2 separate regions of the Homo sapiens genome follow, and region 2 is linked to region 1. The links come from fine-mapping of genetic effects on gene expression. A gene starts in region 1. The other region holds a variant in brackets. All regions are shown on one strand. Distances are from middle to middle. Region 1 holds the start of LINC02153 (long intergenic non-protein coding RNA 2153). Region 2 has its middle 45 kb from the start of SNORD3F.

What was found. PIP is the estimated chance that this variant, and not a neighbour inherited with it, causes the effect.
Region 2: its variant is fine-mapped to the expression of LINC02153 in liver (GTEx, PIP above 0.99).

The regions. Positions count from the first base shown.
Region 1 is chr8:20,968,842-20,977,650 of GRCh38, reverse strand. It overlaps LINC02153 (long intergenic non-protein coding RNA 2153), which reads right to left and starts at 3,665. Exons shown (of 5, transcript NR_033894.1): 1 at 2,998-3,665. LOC105379316 (a long non-coding RNA gene) reads left to right here. Exons shown (of 4, transcript XR_007060845.1): 2 at 3,730-3,918. It overlaps LINC03023 (long intergenic non-protein coding RNA 3023), which reads right to left. Exons shown (of 5, transcript NR_130774.1): 5 at 8,713-8,809.
Region 2 is chr8:20,565,821-20,574,629 of GRCh38, reverse strand. No RefSeq gene overlaps it. Among named protein-coding and RNA genes, the nearest start is that of SNORD3F, 45 kb to the left of the region's middle. The variant G/A (reference allele first, on the strand shown) is at 3,848.

The DNA.
Region 1 (8,809 bases):
GTAGCCCAAGAGGGAGAAGTCACAGCAACAGAGAGCTTGGCTGGGAGTTTCTCGGGAAGCTGGAGGCAGCCCAGGGCCTCGTGTTCCTAGAGCTTTCCGCCTCTCTTTCCTGGATTTTTTCCAGCCCTAAGCGGTTCTATTTTTCAGCTTTGGCTCTTGCCTGACATTTGAAGGATGAGCTTTTAACGATACTAAATTAATAACGGTTATAGAGTGTATTTGAGAAGATCATAAAAAAATCAGTAATGTCATCATGTCAAGCAAAGTTTCTGATGGTTTTTTTAAATTATGCATGTCTTTTATTTTTTTCCCTTCCAACATTGATCCAGAGCTTTCAGAGGGACATTAATCTACCTGACCACATCAGAATCCTTAATTATTCGCGTCCAGCAATATATCTAATTCTACAGAAATTCCCCATGGACTTGCCATTGTTGACGTGGAACCCGGCAGCTCAGCTCTGTCCATCTGCTCACCAAGCCCAGCCCCTCACACCCCTCAAAGACACAAGCTACCTCCCTGACTTCTTCTCTGCTTTGACACACAGATGCCCAAGCTTACAATTCAGGGAAGTATAATTTCTCCTAGTGTGATAACTGTAGAGGCGATTTCCCCCTTGCGGAAGGACAAACTGGGGCTGAGGAAAGGATAGTAAACTTAGGGATTGTGAGCCCTCATCTGCAGGACTCTGGAGCTGGAGACCTTGAGCAAGTTGTTCAGACTTCCGCCTCTGCTTGTGCCTTAGTCAAATGAACTCTGTGGCTGCCTCACTGACCTCAGTGCTGATGAGAGCCAATTAAAGTCATGGAAAGCCCATTTTAGACCAGCAGAGCCAGGGAAGTGCAAAAGAATAAAGAAAATACTAACGCTGGTAATGACAGTCATGAGAATATGAGATAGAGTCACTCAGTGGCCGGTAAGGCCTTTGCTGGAGAGAGTGGAAGCCTCTCCCAGTTACTGAGAGGGGCAGACAAGAGTGCAGAGCTTCATTGCATAGGCGTCTTTTAGTGGAGAAAACAGTTACTATGGTGATGCTTTGTAAAGCCTTCATGGGGCAGCTTTCCAATGCTCTCAAGTGGGTAGGGAGGGAGGCTAGGGCAGAACAGTTCAAATTGGCAGTGTGAGTGAGCTTAGATGCCCCATTCCTCTGTCCTCCACAAGGCGATGGGCAGGACAGGTAGGATCTCAAAATCGGTTCCATTCTGTGTCTCTGTCTCTCTCCTCTCTGGCTTACTCTGTATCTCCTCCCTTTTCCTCTCCCTCCTGTTCTCTTCTCCTTTCTTCCTCCCTCCTTTTCTCCAGTCAACACATGATCTGCTAAGTGTCACTCAACAAGCATTCTAGTGAGAGTTTTGACTGTGTCATTTGAGGACTGGAAATCACTGCTGCCGTTAGGGAGGCTTGGAGTCTAGTTCAGAAGAGAGGACTCATTCAGGGCTACTAGGGAGGGGTGAAGGATTCACCGCCTCAATTTCAGGAACCCACATTTGTCAGGGCATGTTTCTAAAATTATTTTTTACTATGACCTCAAAAAAAAAAAAACCTCTGTGAAACAAACAGTCAAGAGGTTTTGGGAATTTGGGTAGTTAACTCTAGAAGAGTTGAATTTGGACCCTCTGATATGGTTTGGCTGTGTCCCACCCAAATCTCATCTTGAATTGTAGCTCCCATAATTCCCATATGCTGTGGGAGGGACCTTGTGGGAGATAATTGAATCATGAGGGCAGTTTCCCCCATACTGCTCTCATAGTAGTGAATAAGTCTGACAAGATCTGATGGTTTTATAAGGGATTTCCCCTTTCGCTTGTCTTTCTCTCTTGCCTGCCACCATGTAAGGCATGACTTTGCTCCTCCTCACCTTCTGCCATGATTGTGAGGCCTCCCTAGTCATGTGGAACTGTGAGTTCATTAAACCTCTTTTTCTTATAAATTACCCAGTCTGGGGTATGTCTTCATCAGCAGCATGAAAACAGACTAATACACCCTCCAACAGGAGGGGAAGGCAGGCATTACTTGGTAGATGGGGAACTGACTACAAGCAAGGAAATGGTTGGTGCTGCCTGGGCCCATGCATCAGTGGACTGGAAGGCAGGAAGGAGAGAGGCTTTTATGGGGGCAGGGGAGGCAGGTCACCACGAAGAACCACTCAAATGTTCTCACCCTAGCCCAAGGTCAACAACTCATTTCCTAGTTCCTAGAATCCATATTCAGTATATTCTTGTAAGTGAATGAAAGAATAAATGCATGCAGGAAAGGCTGCCTTGAATAAAAGAGGTAGAACAGTGGAAGTACAAGAATTCGAAAAGCACAGCCATCCAAGGGCCGAAAAGTATTGTAGCTCTAGTAGGAGAAGTTTAATAGGGAGAGATGGCAACGCTAGCCCCACAATCGTGCCCATATCAACCCATGTTCATAGGAGAAACTGACCAGCAGTTGAAATTCCAATTCTGACTGGGGAGCTTAAAAAAATATTGATCTTAGCCTCAGTGACTGATTTAATTGGTCTGGGGTGTGGACTGGACTTTGGACATTTTAATAGTTCTCCAGTGATCCTAATGAACAGATAGATAGATTTGGGAATCATCAGTTCAGGAAGAAAATAAGACTAATTGAAACTAGGGTTTGTACTGGGAAGCCATGGTAGGGTGTTTTATTGAGTGACTTATAATAAACCCATTTTCTCAAGAAAATTATAGGTCTGGGAATGTAGGTTTGTTCTGAAAGGAAATGAGAAGTGTCAGCAAATAAATGGGTTCCACGTGTACAGCTAAGTTCCCGTGAAATCCTCTAAGGTCAGTCACATCCTTATATAATCCTAGGCTGGAGTCACAAGGTCAAGTCTCAGCCCTGTAAGGAGCCATAAGACTGCAAGTTAGCAAATGTTAACTCTTATTGCACACCTACTCTCTCAGACTCAGAGAGGGCCAAATCCACTCACACTATATATATTAATGTTCCCAGAAACCCTTAAAGGTGGGAACTCCAGAGTAGACATACTAGAGGCAGTGGAGTTCCAGTTTAGATGTCACTTCCTTAGAGGGACTTCCCTGAAGTCCAGAGAAGTCTTGCTTCAGAATTCTCACTGCTTTCCACTTGCTGAGAGCAATCTGCTAATGACTTCTAATTACCATGTTGTTGCCATCCTCATTGGAGTCCATGAGTGGAGAAAGCCGTGTGTTTTCTTCAACCTCATCTTGGTATCTCTGCTGCCTGACGTAAGGCTTGGCTTCGAGTAGTGGCTCTCTAAGCCTATATAAAGAGGAAGGCTACAAATAAATGAATTAATGAATAGATGAATGATTATATAGTTCCATGCACTGGCACGAATAGGAAGAGAAGCTATTCGGTTGGTATGGAACATATTCCTGGTGTCACAAATGACACTACAGGGGCAGCCACAGGGTAAAACTAAGCCGAATGAGTTTGTATCCAATGTGCCATTCTTTCCCATGAGTCCCTGACAGCCCCATCTTCCAGTCAGCACTACAGGGCCTTGTGGGTAAAGAAATGCACTTTGCTGCCCCAGGGGAGTGAGTCTGAGGCTCTTCAGGCAGCAGCTGGATTTGAAGGCTTTCTTTTCTGCTCTGGGATTAGGGGACCAAAGGACCCTGGACCACAGACTTTAAGGAGGCCCTCACTCTCAGGTGCTCACCCTGCCCTCGCATGCCCCTGAGGGCCAGCGCCTCCTTTAAGTCCTGCCTCACAGGCACCTGTCCTTTCTCACCCTAGTCCAGGCCTTGCTATGACTTCATAAAGAGCACACAGGACTTGGAGCCAAATGAACCTGGTTGCAGTGAGAGGTTTCAGCCCCCATCAGCCAAATGCTCTTGAGCAGGCCTCATCTGGAAAATAATGACTGTGTCTCAAAGGATGACGAAGAGGAATAAATGAGCAATGTGTTTCAATGAGACAGTATCGGTGAGTGAGTCTAATGCTATTTGAACTGGTTTATCAGTTCCATCGCATGCAGTATCCCTCTCGCCCCAGCCGTTCAAGAGGAGCAGCCACTACGATGGGTGGCAGGTGAGGGAGGGTCTGGGAGAGTCGCTGTTCCTAGTGGTGGCTGCGCTGGTCACCGTAGCAGTGCTCCATGTCCAGCCAGCACTTCTGACTGAAAGACCAACCACCTTCCTTTCTCTTACGGCATTCTGTAGTTCTGTCTGTCGCTTGCCAGGAACCTCCTGTCCCACCCACTTTGCCAGGTCTCTGGTTTCTAATGTAGGCTCCATCCTTTCTCCATTTAGCAGCAGAAGTGGGGCACGGCTTGGCGGCAGGGGTGGGTGCTGTGGCACTTCCAGTTCCACAGTCAGCTGTGGACCTGAGCTTTGCAAACTGCCAGGGGATAGTTCATTCACCAGCATTGAGTGGAACCATGACTGGCCACTCATCCGGTCACCATTGTCCAACTGCCGGCCCAGGCCGGTGCTGCAAGATCATCATCACCCCAGAACAAGAGGCATTTCCCTCTCTAACACCTCCCATCATCAGTGGTGTGCAGCAGCTCCACACTGCTGCCCATTTTCCCCTCTTAGAGTTTCCTTGCTGCCCTTCATATATTTGGTGATTTTTGCAGATAGTCCCAATTTCAAATACTCTCTCCCTCTGGAGCAAAGCTTGGCGAGCTCCTCACTCAACCCATCTTCTCCTTCATTTTGTTCATGCTGTCCCTTAGCATGGAGTGGCCCTAGCTCCCATCTGCCAAAGCTAGCAGATGCTGTCGGTGTCCCATTCACATCCCCTCGGGCTACCTGCCCGCAGTCCTCAGCTCTCTGTGTCTCTTGGCCTGAGAACATTCTCTGGCCAAGGGAATGTCAGAAAGTTCCTGACAGGAAGCACTGTCAATTCTATGTGGCACTGGAATGAGCAGATATACACCGCAGCTTCCTGGCCCCTCAGCAGGGTTGAGCCCAGCTGCAAACAAACAGGGGTGGCTTGCACAACAATGGACCCTTTCTGGGCCTTGCTGCCTGTCCTGACTCATATTCTCACTCTCTCCCTTGTGCTTGATGAGAACATCTGCGCATCTCTCAGGCAAACTCCTTTTGCCCAGCCTTTGTCTGCCTCTGGAGGCATTGAGGCTGGAACACCCAGGATGCTCATCCTCCTGGACCCATCGCAGCCTCAGCTCCTCCATGGCCTCATCTACGGGCCTTTCCCACATCCTGTGCCTCCTCCTTACACCAGCATGTCACTGAGACAGCGCAGTCTAAACTGTGCTTACATCCTGCTTCGGGTTACCTTGATGTTATTCTCCAGCTGGGAGGGGCCCACAACTTCTGCTCCTTTGGAATCCCCCAGCACTGGCACTGGCAGTGTATACATGGGGCCTGGGAACACCTTGATTGTAGGTATTCATGGAGGCACAATGCCCTGCTTAGGAGAAAGGCAATGGTGTATCTTTTCATCTGAATAGGACTTGACAGTTTAAAAGCATTATTACATTTACTTGCTACCGCCTTTGATTCCAACAAAGCACAAGTTTGTTACTTTTCTCATGTGAAAAGTGAGGTGGATGAAGCTGGAGGGGTGGTGAGTTCCTCATGGTCACATAGCTAAGTGTTTAGAAGCATGTCGTGAGCTCTTCCCCTCCAAACCTTGCCTCATTCCACGGTGCTGGCTGCTCCCATCTCATATGCAGATGGTTACACTGGGTCCTCACGATGACTCTGCAAGGCTGCTATTATTACACTCATTCTGCAGATGAGAAAATTGTGACTCAGAGTATAAATTGCTAAAAGACACTCGATCAGAAAGTGGCAGCAGTAAGACTTAAAACTCGGGGACTATGCTCCTATGTGGGAGAGAGAGTATGAGAGAAGCCTTCCCCTGATTCCTTCACCAGCCCTGCTTGTTGCTTTTCTAATGGTTTTGCACATGCACGGAGGGGGTTGGAAAAGGAAAAAGTGAATGTGACAATGTAGTCACTCTTTTTTGGAGACGAAGAAGTCTCGCTCTGTTGCCCAGGGTGGAGTGCGGTGGTGTGATCTCAGCTCACTGCAGCCCCTGCCTCCCAGGTTCAAGGAATTATCCTGCCTCAGTCTCCTGAGTAGCTGAGACTACAGGCGTGTGCCACCACACTTGGCTAATTTTTGTATTTTTAGTAGAGATGAGGTTTCACCATGGTGGTCAGGCTGGTCTTGAACTCCTGACCTCGTGATCTGCCTGCCTCAGCCTCCCAAAGTGCTGGGATTACAGGTATGAGCCACCGCGTCCGGCCAACAATGTAGTCACTCTTAATCCCCAAAATCGGTTCTTCCGGCTGGCTTTATGACGCCACGGTGTTTCAAACTTTTACTTTCTCTCTCTTCCAACACAACATGGCTTGTGGGTTCTGCATTTCTCCCTCCCCCACAAATTTCTACCATGCCTAAGACTGAACAGGTGCTTTCCATTATTGCTGAGTTTGCAAAAGCAGACCTCCCCTGTGGGACTGGCAGCAAGTGTTCCAGCCCCACCCCTGCAGGACATGATACTCACAATTCTCATCCACGATGGAGGAGCATTTCAAGCATTTTTTCTTTTTTGAGATGGAGCCTCACTCTCTCGCCCAGGCTGGAATGCAGTGGTGTGATCTTGGCTCACTGCACTCCCACCTTTCAGGCTCAAGAGATTCTCCTGCCTCAGCCTCCTGAGTAGCTGGGATTACAGGCACCTGCCAGCATACCCAGCTAATTTTTGCATTTTTAGTAAAGATGGAGTTTCACCATGTTGGCCAGGCTGGTCTTCATCAAGGTATTTTTGTTGCTTATACCTCTGTGTAAGTATCAGAGCCTTTCTTGGAAACAGTGACAGGAGTAGGCATTGAGGAAAGACAAAGGACTTGACTTCACATTTTTGTTTTGTTTGGTTCCCAGTAGGGTAGATAGGCAGTGAATGTAATTTGCCAATGAACTCTTTGATGAAAGCACTTAGCCACTGTTTGCTTGGCATGCCCAGAATTTAATCTTTTTTTTTCCTTAAAACTCCATATGGAATAATCCAGAGACCAATCAATTAGAGAAGTGTTTTCCACTGTAGTGGAAAAAGTATTTGAAGTCAGCTCAGCTGACTTGATCTCTACAATTTGTTCACTGACTTTATTATTTACTCAATGTGTGAGTCAAGGTAGGTCACTTAACCTTTGTGAGGCTCCACACCCTCATTGATAAGATGACAATAGCATAAAAAAGATTACAGCTGGTATAGAGTTGGTTCTTGACACATATTTGTTACAGGAATGAATGAATGAATTTCAAGGTTAAGAGTATTAAATGAGATAAATGTGGGTGAAATGCTGTAGATTGGCAACTCATCAATGTTTTTCTTTCAGTCTGGTTTAGAAAGCTAAAAGTCGGTAGGTACCACTGAAGGAGATGTTTATGTGGGGAGAGGATGTATGTGGGTTGGGGGTAGGGTGGAAGAGACTGCTGCAAGTGCTAAGTTCTGGAGGAAGAAGCCAGGTGGGAAATCACCTCTCATGGCCTTTAATGGCCTCTCCAGCCAGTGTCCCCAGCTCTGGCTGTCACTTCTTGACAGCCCCAAAAAATCCTAGGGTGAAAAGTTGTTTACATGACAACACTCCATCCCAAGTAAGAGATCCAGGCAGTCACCTTCTCTTCTTCCCTCCCCTTTCAAGCATCAAGTGGGGAGAAATCAGGTTTCTGTGTTCTCTCTCCCAGGAGGTAGCTGTGGCACAGGAAGGAGAGAGGGGATGCAGAGATCCTGAGTGGAGGCATTTCTTTGAGCTACTGACCTCCTGATTCCATTGCACAGGAGGCACAGCCAGAACGTCCATGACTGTAGCTTGGTCCCCATCGGGCTGGGTCTGAAGTAGCCATGGACACACTGTCTTCTCCATCTTCCACCCATATGGCAGCTGCTGTGGGGAGGGGGGTACCACGCCACTCCCATCTCATCTATTTGGTCTCATCCCAAGTGTCACTTCCTCTTGGAAGTCTTTCCTGACAGCCCCTCCTCCAACAGACTAAGGGGCTCTGGTCACGAGCATCCATAGCTGCTGATGGCCCCTTTCCATGGTTTGTAAGGACACTTTGACTGCACTTTTAAGCAAGAAACTTGTCTGCCTAATTTACAGCTGAAATCCTGGTGTCCAGCACAGTGCCTGGTACCTAGTAAGTTCTTAGAGCATGCTTGTGGAGCAACGAGGTCTGTAAATGCATCTACCACTCCTTCCCATCACACAGTCAGGATCACAGAAGGGACCATGTATCAGGAGTTAATGACAGTCGTCTCCAAAATGAACCTACAACCCACTCACTTGTAGATTACTTACGCTCTTGGTGACCTCAAAAGAATATTAGGGGAGTAAAGTGGTACAGTGTCTCTACAACATGAAGCTATTGGGTAATATTGCTACAGATTGAAAGTTTTCTCATGGTGTTTCTTTCAATCCAGTTCTTAAGATCTATGAGTAGCTAATATCAATTAATGTTTATTAAGAATTTATAATGGACTAGGCAGTGTGATAAATGCCTTCTGTGCATCATCCTCATTACATTGTCACAGTGACAATGACACGGAAGCACTACAGTATTTTCCCATTTTACAGATGAAGCTCCCGGGGCTTAGAGAGGTTAAATAACTTGCCTTCTCCCACCAGATCTTACATTCATGGAGCTTTCCCCTATCCAGAGGCACAGTGACCGAGATTGCCTTTTGAGTATCTTCAATGGCTGTACCTCTGTTCAAAGCAAGATTTATTGACGGAGCTAATCAATTAAGCAATCGTTATTTATTGAGTCCCTCGTGAGTTATTCAATATTTATTGAGCAGTCTCCATGTAGCTAGCTAGCACTTGTTCAATGAGCCA
Region 2 (8,809 bases), 400 kb after region 1:
GGATTAGGGTGAAAGATGAAGACTGGTGTCAAATGAGTCAAGATACTTGGGGCTGCAAATGGCAGACAGCCATGTTCAAACTTGACAAAAACCTGAGAAAAATGTATCATCTCGCTTGACTAGAAGTTGAGAAAATAGAACTCTAGGCACAGTAGAACTTAGGTTCAGTTTCTCTGCAGTTCTCTTGACTCCATCCATCTTTGGGTAGACCTTGTTCTGAGACCTCGTTTCCCACGTGGCGTCAAGATGGCTGCCTGCAGCCCCTGCAGCCAATGTGCTCCCTTCCTCATACCCAGAAAGGCAGGGAGAGGGAAGACAGTCTCTCTCCTACCTGCGAAAGAAACGCCCTTTTCTTCTCTCTCACTGAGCCAGCTAGAGTCACATGATCACTCCCGGACCAATAGCAGCCTGACTTCCTGAACCGGTCTCCAGCAAGAGCCTGTAGTGGAATCACCATGACTGGCTTAGACTAATCAAGATCCACCCCAGCAAGAGCTTCACCCAATCACATAGGCTGCAAGGAAAAGGGATGGATTCCGGAATAAATTTGGGGTACTGTGAAGAAAAAGGAAGGAGGGCAAGATGCTGAGCAAGCTACTATCTGTCCTCTACAGCTAATAAATCACTACGAATGGCCTATTGAATGGGAATATCAAAATCAGAACTGCAGATGGTATCCTGAAGAAAAAAGTGGGTTTCTATGATTGCTCCCTGCCACAAGCAACTCAGACGTGGGTTTGTAATAGCCTGAACAAACCTCATAAAGTCTGGGCCAAAACATTTAGGAGAAGGAGGAGAGAGAAATAAGTTGTTATAACCCAGATTTCACTTTGACTTTCTGTGAAGCAGAGACAAAATACAGATAGATTAGATAGATAGATAGATAGATAGATAGATAGATAGATAGATAGATAAATATATATATACACACACACACAAACACACACACACACACGCACACACACACACACAGGGATTCACTCCACGACCTTTTATTGGCCCAAACGATAGCTTCAGTCTTTTAATTACTACTGCCCAGGAAAATAATTCCTCTCCTTGGCTTCCTCTCTACTGCAGCTTACCCAGAATAGCACATGCTGTATATTTTTTCAGAAATGACAGAAATATTCGTGGTGCTTGGGTTAAGTAATTAAGATTTGCTGTGGGAACACCAAGGAACCCCATTAAAATGGCTGTGTAGCTTGGCAAATTAACTACTTAGTGTTTAATTACTAAAAATTACTATCAATTACTAAATGTTACTGCAAATTACTTGCAGAATAGACACATTTGTTTGTGGGTATTAATGATTTCAATTACTCCTCATAGGTAATTGGTTTCTGTGCACACACGGGTATCAACTGTCGAATAGGAGCTCAGCAATAAACATTGTTCCTCTTCTTTTAGCTCATAGCTGAAAAATTAAACACTGGGCCCATAGTTCCTCTAGGTTTCTGTGCTACTTAACATTGCTTGCCTGAGACTCCTAGGGCTGGAAAGGACCTCAGAGACCTCTTCCAGGGAGCAGAGGAGGAAGCAGGACACAGAGGTTAGTGGTTACTCAGAATCACACAGCCAACACTACAGTATAGATCAACATCAAACACTTTCTGCACAGTGAAAGGATCTAGTCACAAAAGACCAAAACTGCCTGATCCAATTTATACAAAATGTCCAGAATTGGCAAATCTATAGAAATAGAAAGTAAATCAGTTGCTGCCTGAATCTGGAAGGCGGGGGAAAGAGCTGGGGAGTGAGAAGGGACAATTAGGGGAGTGAGGAGTGACTGCTAATGGGCACAAGATTTATTTGGGGGGTAACAAAGATGTTTTAAAATTAGATTATGGAGATGTTTGTATAACTCTATAAATACTCAAAACCATTGAATTATACACCTTAATTGGGTGATTATTGTGGTATATAAGTTATATCTCAATACAGCTGTTAAAACAAGTATTTTTAATCATATAATTAGAGAATGATAGGGCTGGATCAAAGAGCTGATGCTCCTGACTCCCGCTTTATCGTTCTTTCCACTGGACCATCCTGCTTCAACAGATGCCAAGCTTGCTGGAATTTGTAACTCACTGAAGAAGATGGCCATTAAGACTCATTGTTGAAATCGTGGTCTTATTTATGAAGGGCTCACTTCCAGCTATTTGTGGATTATTAAGAGAGTATAAACTATGTTCATTAAAGTAGCATAAAATGCAACCATAAAATGCATATAATAACTGAATACCAAATAAAATGATGTCTTAGCTTAGAATATATTCATCATGCATAAAACAACACAGAACTTGTGACAAGGGCTTGCCAGTATGTAGTTTATTTGGGATGGCAATCCTATGGAATGGGTTGGAGGGAATGGGAAGAGTAAAAAGGGAAAGGAGAAAAAGTCAATCCCAGTGTGTATGACTGAGTTGATTCAGTAGTCGCAAATAACTGAGACTCAATCCCACCAGGCCCTTGAAGAGTTGTGTACCCTGCTTCAGAATTGTCCACAATAAGGAGAGGGAAATATTCATGCATTGGCTCCTTATCCACCGGTAAAGAATTTGCCCAGACATTGTTTAACTCCCTAGCTCTTCCACATGGGTATTTGAACCAGCACAACTGAGCAATATCCCACAGCATCCTCCAAGGTAGACACAGAGAAGCTCAAGAGCAGAAAGTAAGAGAAAAGTCACAAGGCTCTAGCCACTCTGATCAGACTACCTGTGCATGCAACCTGCTGTTGCAGTAATTGCCAAAGTCACAGGTAAGTAAGTCGGGAAGGTGTAAGATGGAGGGTCCAAGATGTCCCACATATTATAAGAGAAACAGAAGCTCATCAACCACTCTAAGAAGAATCAAACTGAGGAAAAATTGAATTGGCAATGTGGGACGAGAAACTCCAGTCTAGAATAGAGTTCACCTATGCCTGGAAGATTGGAGAGCTGAATGGAATTCTAGCCTTCCAGCACTTTGGAGGAATATTACATTGGCCAAAAAGTCCTGCCTATACTTCTTCAAATAACCACACTCAAAAATAATACTTCTGGCCAGGCAGTGTCTCATGCCTGTAATCCCAACACTTTGGGAGGCTGAGGTGGGAGGGTTGCTTGAGTCCAGGAGTTCAAAACCAGCCTGGGTAACATGACAAAACTCTGTCTCTACAAAACATACAAGAAAAAAAAATGAGCCGGGCATGGTGGTGCACACCTTTAGTTCCAGCTACTCAGGAGGCTTAGCTGGGAGGATCACCTGAACCCAGGAGGTTGAGGCTGCAGTGAGTCATGATCATGCCACTGCACTTCAGCCTGGGTGACAGAGTGAGACCTTGTCTCAAAAAAAAAAAAAAAAAAAAAAAAAGAATACTTCTATACCCCTCCTACTCCCCAGCATCCTCCAGTATTCTTAGCTATTATCTGCCCAATCTTATTCCCTGGAAATTTTTCTTTAGATCGGTCAGCTCAATACCAGTTTGTATTAGTCAGGTTCTCTAGAGGGACAAAATTAATAGGATACACACACACACACACACACACACACACACACACACACACACATATTATATATATATTTAAAGAATAGTTTATTAAGTATTAACTTACATGATCACAAGGTCCCACAATTGGCTGTCTACAAGCTGAGGAGTAAGAAGAGCCAGTCTGAGTCCCAAAACTGGAAAACTTGGAGTCTAGTGTTCGAGGGCAGGAAGCACCCAGCATAGGAGAAAGATGTAGGCTGGGAGGCTAGGCCAGTCTCTCCTTTTCACGTTTTTTCTGCCTGCTTTATATTCGCTGGCAGCTGATGAGATTGTGTCCACTAGATTAAGGGTGAATCTGCCCTCCGCAGCCTACCG[G/A]CTTAAATATTAATCTCTTTTGGCAACACCCTCACAGACACACAAAGGATCAATACTTTGTATCCTTCAATCCAATCAAGTTGACACTCAGTATTAACCATTACACAGTTCAATATCTTCGCTCAACTCCACACATGTCTTCCACACATTGGAGAAAGGACATCCCATCAATAAATGGCGATGGGACAAGTGGATATACACCTGCAGAAGATTAAAACTAGACCCCTGGCTGGGTGCAGTGGCTCACACCTGTAATCCCAGCACTTTGAGAGACTTTGAGCACTTTGAGGTGGGTGGATCACTTGAGGTCAGGAGTTCAAGACCAGTCTGGCCAACATGGTGAAACTCTGTCTCTACTAAAAATACAAAAAAAAAAAAAAAAATAGGCTGGCATGGTGGTGCACACCCGCAGTCCCAGCTACTCGGGAGGCTGAGGCAGGAGAATCACTTGAACCCTGGGGGCGGAGGTTGCGGTGAGCCAAGATCACACCACTGCACTCCAGCCTCGGTAACAGAGTAAGACTCTGTCATAAATAAATAAATAAATAAATAAAACTATACCCCTATCTCTCACCATATACAAAAATCAACTCTAAATAGATTGAAGACTTAAATGCAAGACCTGAAACTATAAAACTACTACAAGAAAACATTGGAGAAACACTGCATAAAATTGGACTGAGTGCAGATTTTTTCAATAAGACCTCAAAACCACAGGCAACAAAAGCAAAAATAGGCAAATAGGATTACATCAAACTAAAAAGCTTCTGTACTGGAAAAGAAACAATAGAGTGGAGAAACAACCTACGGGATGAGAGAAAAACTGTGTATCTAACAAGTAGTTAATATCCAGACTATATAAGGAACTCAAACAACTCAATAGCAAACAACAATAATCATCAGATTTAAAAAGGGGGAAAAGCCTGAATAGACATTTCTCAAAAAAAGACATACAAATTGCCAACAGATACATGAAAAAGTCCTCAACATCATTAATTATCAGGGAAATGCAATTCAAAACCACAATGAGATATCACTCTGCCCCAGTTAGGATGGCTATCATCGAAAAAACAAAATGTGACAAGAGCTGGTGAGGATGTGGAGAAATGGGAACTATTAGGTACTATTGGTAGGAATGTAAAAAAACTATAGCCTTTATAGTATAGTATGGAAGTACCTCAAAAAATTAAAATGTAAACTATTAAATGATTCAGCAATTTCATTGCTAGGTGTATATCCAAAAGAAATGAAATCAGTATATTGAAGAGATATGTGCACTCCTGTGTTTACTGCAGTGCTATTTACAATAGCCAAGATATGAAATCAACCTAAATGCCCATCTACAGAAGAATGAATACAGAAAATTTTATATATATATATATATACACACACACACACACACACACACACACACAATAGAACACTATTCAGCCATAAAACAGAATGAAATCCTGTCATTTGCGACAGGGTGAATGAACCTGGAGGACATTATGTTAAGTGAAATATGCCAGGCACAGAAAGACCAACACTGTATGTCTAGCTCATATGTGGAATCTTAAAACGTTGATTTCATAGAATTAGAGAGTAAATAGTGATTACCAGAGGCTGGGAGGCAGAGAGGAGAGTAATGCAAGAGGTTGGTCGATAGTTACAAAGTTACAGTTAGACTGAAAGAATATGTTCTTGTGTTCTATTGCACAGTAGGGTGATTATAGCAAATAACAATGTAGTGTATATTTTGGGAAAACTAGAAGAGTTTGAATGTTGTCACTGCAAAGAAATGATAAATGTTTAAAGTGATGGATCTGCTAATTACCCTGATTTGATCATTATACAATGTATACATGTATTGAAACATCACACTGTACCCCATAAATATGCATGCTTATTATATATCAATTACAGATTTAAAATTAATTTTTAAAGAGAAACTTAAAATGTTAAGTGGTGTATGAACCCAGAAAATCTCACTGCAGAACCTACACTCTTTTCCACTTGTACCAAGCTGCCTCATAGATGTCAGGGGGAGAACAACTGAATGTTTGAGCAAAGTTTAATGCAGAGGCTGTTTTACAAAGTTAGGAGAAGCATTAAGAGAAGTAGTGAAATATGTCAGGACAACAAGGGCTGTTCCCATCCCTTGGCTCTCAAGGCAAAGGAGGGAATAGCCGCCAGAAAGACACTAGAAAGTTATAGGTGACCGCAGCCCTGGTGAAGCTGTGGCCTTACACAGAGAGATCAACCTCTGCCAATCTGCAGGACAGAAGGAAAGAACCAAAGGAATAATTATTCCAACCTCTCTCTCTGATTTCCTGTTGGTGCCTCCCATCGGCTAAACCCAGGTAGAAACCAGAGGGCAAAAGGGCAAATTGAGACAGTCCCCAGAGGTCAATGTCCCTGGACTGAGAGCAAAGATTGGGGTAGAGAAGGATGTGGAAGACAAACAGAGGAGATGCAGCATGAAGTCTGAGCTAAGATCTAAGCACTGCTCTGATTTTAGCTCTCCAGTGTTTTTCCTCGAGGGGCTCAGAGTTGCTTTATACTTAGGCAAAGGGGACAGCTGTCCCAATCCGGTATCTAACTAAGAGGAGCCATACCTAAAAGAGGAGCAGGTGCAGTATCTGCCAAGGCCATCCCTAAATGACATCATCGAATGTTCTCATCTTCAGCACAATCAACCCAGCATGGCAATAAGGTCCCAGTTGCTTCCCCTAACACAGACATGCCTTTGAAGATCTGCCTCACTCTAATAATCGTAAATGACCCTGGGGAACAATCCCTTTTGAAAATGAGGCTGACCAAAACCTGTATTGGGTATATATAACAGTTCTGAAATTCCTCTCTAGTAAGCACAAAAGAGGACTTTCAGATCTTGTCTATACATACTAATATAAGCAGTTCCAATAAAGGTATTGGAATACAGGTCTTTAGGTCTTGACTATGCAGAACTAATTTAAATGGTTCCAAACCAAAAAGACTTGCAAGAAACTCTTCTAAAATACATCCTATAATTATATACATTTTTCCTATTCTAACTTAAATGAGTCAAAATGTGGAAGAAGTGAAAGAGTGACCTGACCATCGTGGTTTTATCTGAGCCCCAGAAACACCGAACAGGTCCCTAGCAAGCCAAGGCCTCACATGTGTCCGTTCCATGTTGACTGAGTTTGCACTCTAAACCAGGCACTGTGCTAAGCACGTAACTAGCAGTCACTGCTATAGCCCTCACAGCAACCCTAAGAATAAAGTACTATTTTGAATCCCATTTCATGAACAAGGAAACGGAGGCATGTGGTGATCAAGTCAGAAGTGATTCAGTGATCTTGTTCACTAGACTAAGATCACAGGAGTACACAAATGAAAAATAAGACAATGAATTTTAGCTGGGAACAGATGACACTGACAAAACAATCTGTGGGAAGTGAATGGCAATAAGAATTAAGGTTCCAATGGTTCAGAAAGTAAGTTATTGGGGTGGGTGGGGGCACTCAGGGGAGTTTTGCCCAGGGCGGTAGAAACCAGGCTGAGGACCAGGAGAAAGACAAGGAGGGGCAGTGGGTGGGGAAGACAGTGAAGGTGGAGTCTTGGAGAGGGGGTGGCCCTGGTGGACTTGACCAGGACAGTGAGGAGCTGGGCTCCTGCAGAAGTGTCAGTGGTGAGGCGGCAGATCAGAGAGGGGATCTTGACTGCCCTTTCCATCCTCTCCCAATTGCTGGCTCCCTGCTGTGGGTCTGTCTCTCTGCCTCACACATCAATGAGCCAGCCCTGATGCTCACTTCCCTGCCTCTCGGAGCCCTGTCCAGTCTCAGACTACACAATTCCCACTCCCTGCAGGCTCTGTCTGACGGGCTGTAAATAGCCTGTTTGAAAAGTAATTGCATGTTTGGGGCTGGTGCTTGCCATGTGTAATTGCTCATTCTTTCTCCAGCCACTTCCTCTCTTCCTACTTCCCAGGTTTGTTTCCCAGGATAGGAGCCTTCCAGGCAAGTGGCTGGAGGAGATAACGAGGCCCTCTGAGCCTCACGATTCAACCAGACTTTGCTGCCCAGGGAGCCACCCTGCACCGTCTACCTGCCCTAAGCAACGGGATAGAAAAGGGAGAATGGACTCATTCCTTTCTGAAAGATTCTCTGGGCATCATGGACTGGTACAAAGACATCTCCCCAGATCTAGGGCACATGGACTCTCTTGCCCTGGCACTTGGGCAGCACAGGCCAGCCCTCTAATGATGTCAGTCTTCTTGTCTGCTATACTTCTGATAGCCCCCTTCTTCCCTAAATCCCTCGGATCTCTAATACTCAGGATTAATTTACTGAACATCTACTATATGCCAGTCTGTCCTGAGAGCTTGTTTTGGTATATTTCCCCTCAAAGTTAGGCACAGCACAGAGGCACACAGTGACATAGCCCCACACCCTATACCTTACACCGCTGCCTCCATTGGCCTGGTCCTGCACAGAGATAGCTGAGCAGAAGTGAAGCAAGTCCTGCGGGTACCCAGCCACTTCCCATATGCACTGGGTCACACTCTAGCCATTGGCGCCCTCAAACAATGACTGAGAGGAGTTGATAAACAAATATCCATCCTCTCTTACCTCTCAGACAAGATAATCTTGAAGTGCTTATTCAACACTGGCTTCTAGATTGCTGTATTAGTCCATTCTCACATTGCTATAAAGAAATAGCTGAGACTGGACAATTTATAAAGAAAAGAGGTAAAATTGGCTCACAGTTCTGCAGGCTGTACAGGAAGCATAGCAGCTTGTTTCTGGGGAGGCCTCAGCAAACTTCCAATCATAGTGGAAGGCAAAAGGGGAGCAGGCATGTCTTACAAGGCCAGAGCAGGAGCAACAGGGTGGGAAGGAGAAGGGAGGTCCCATACACTTTTATATAACTCATTCACTGTCACAAGAATAGCACCAAGGGAGAAATGTGCCCCCATGATCGAATCACCTCCTGCCA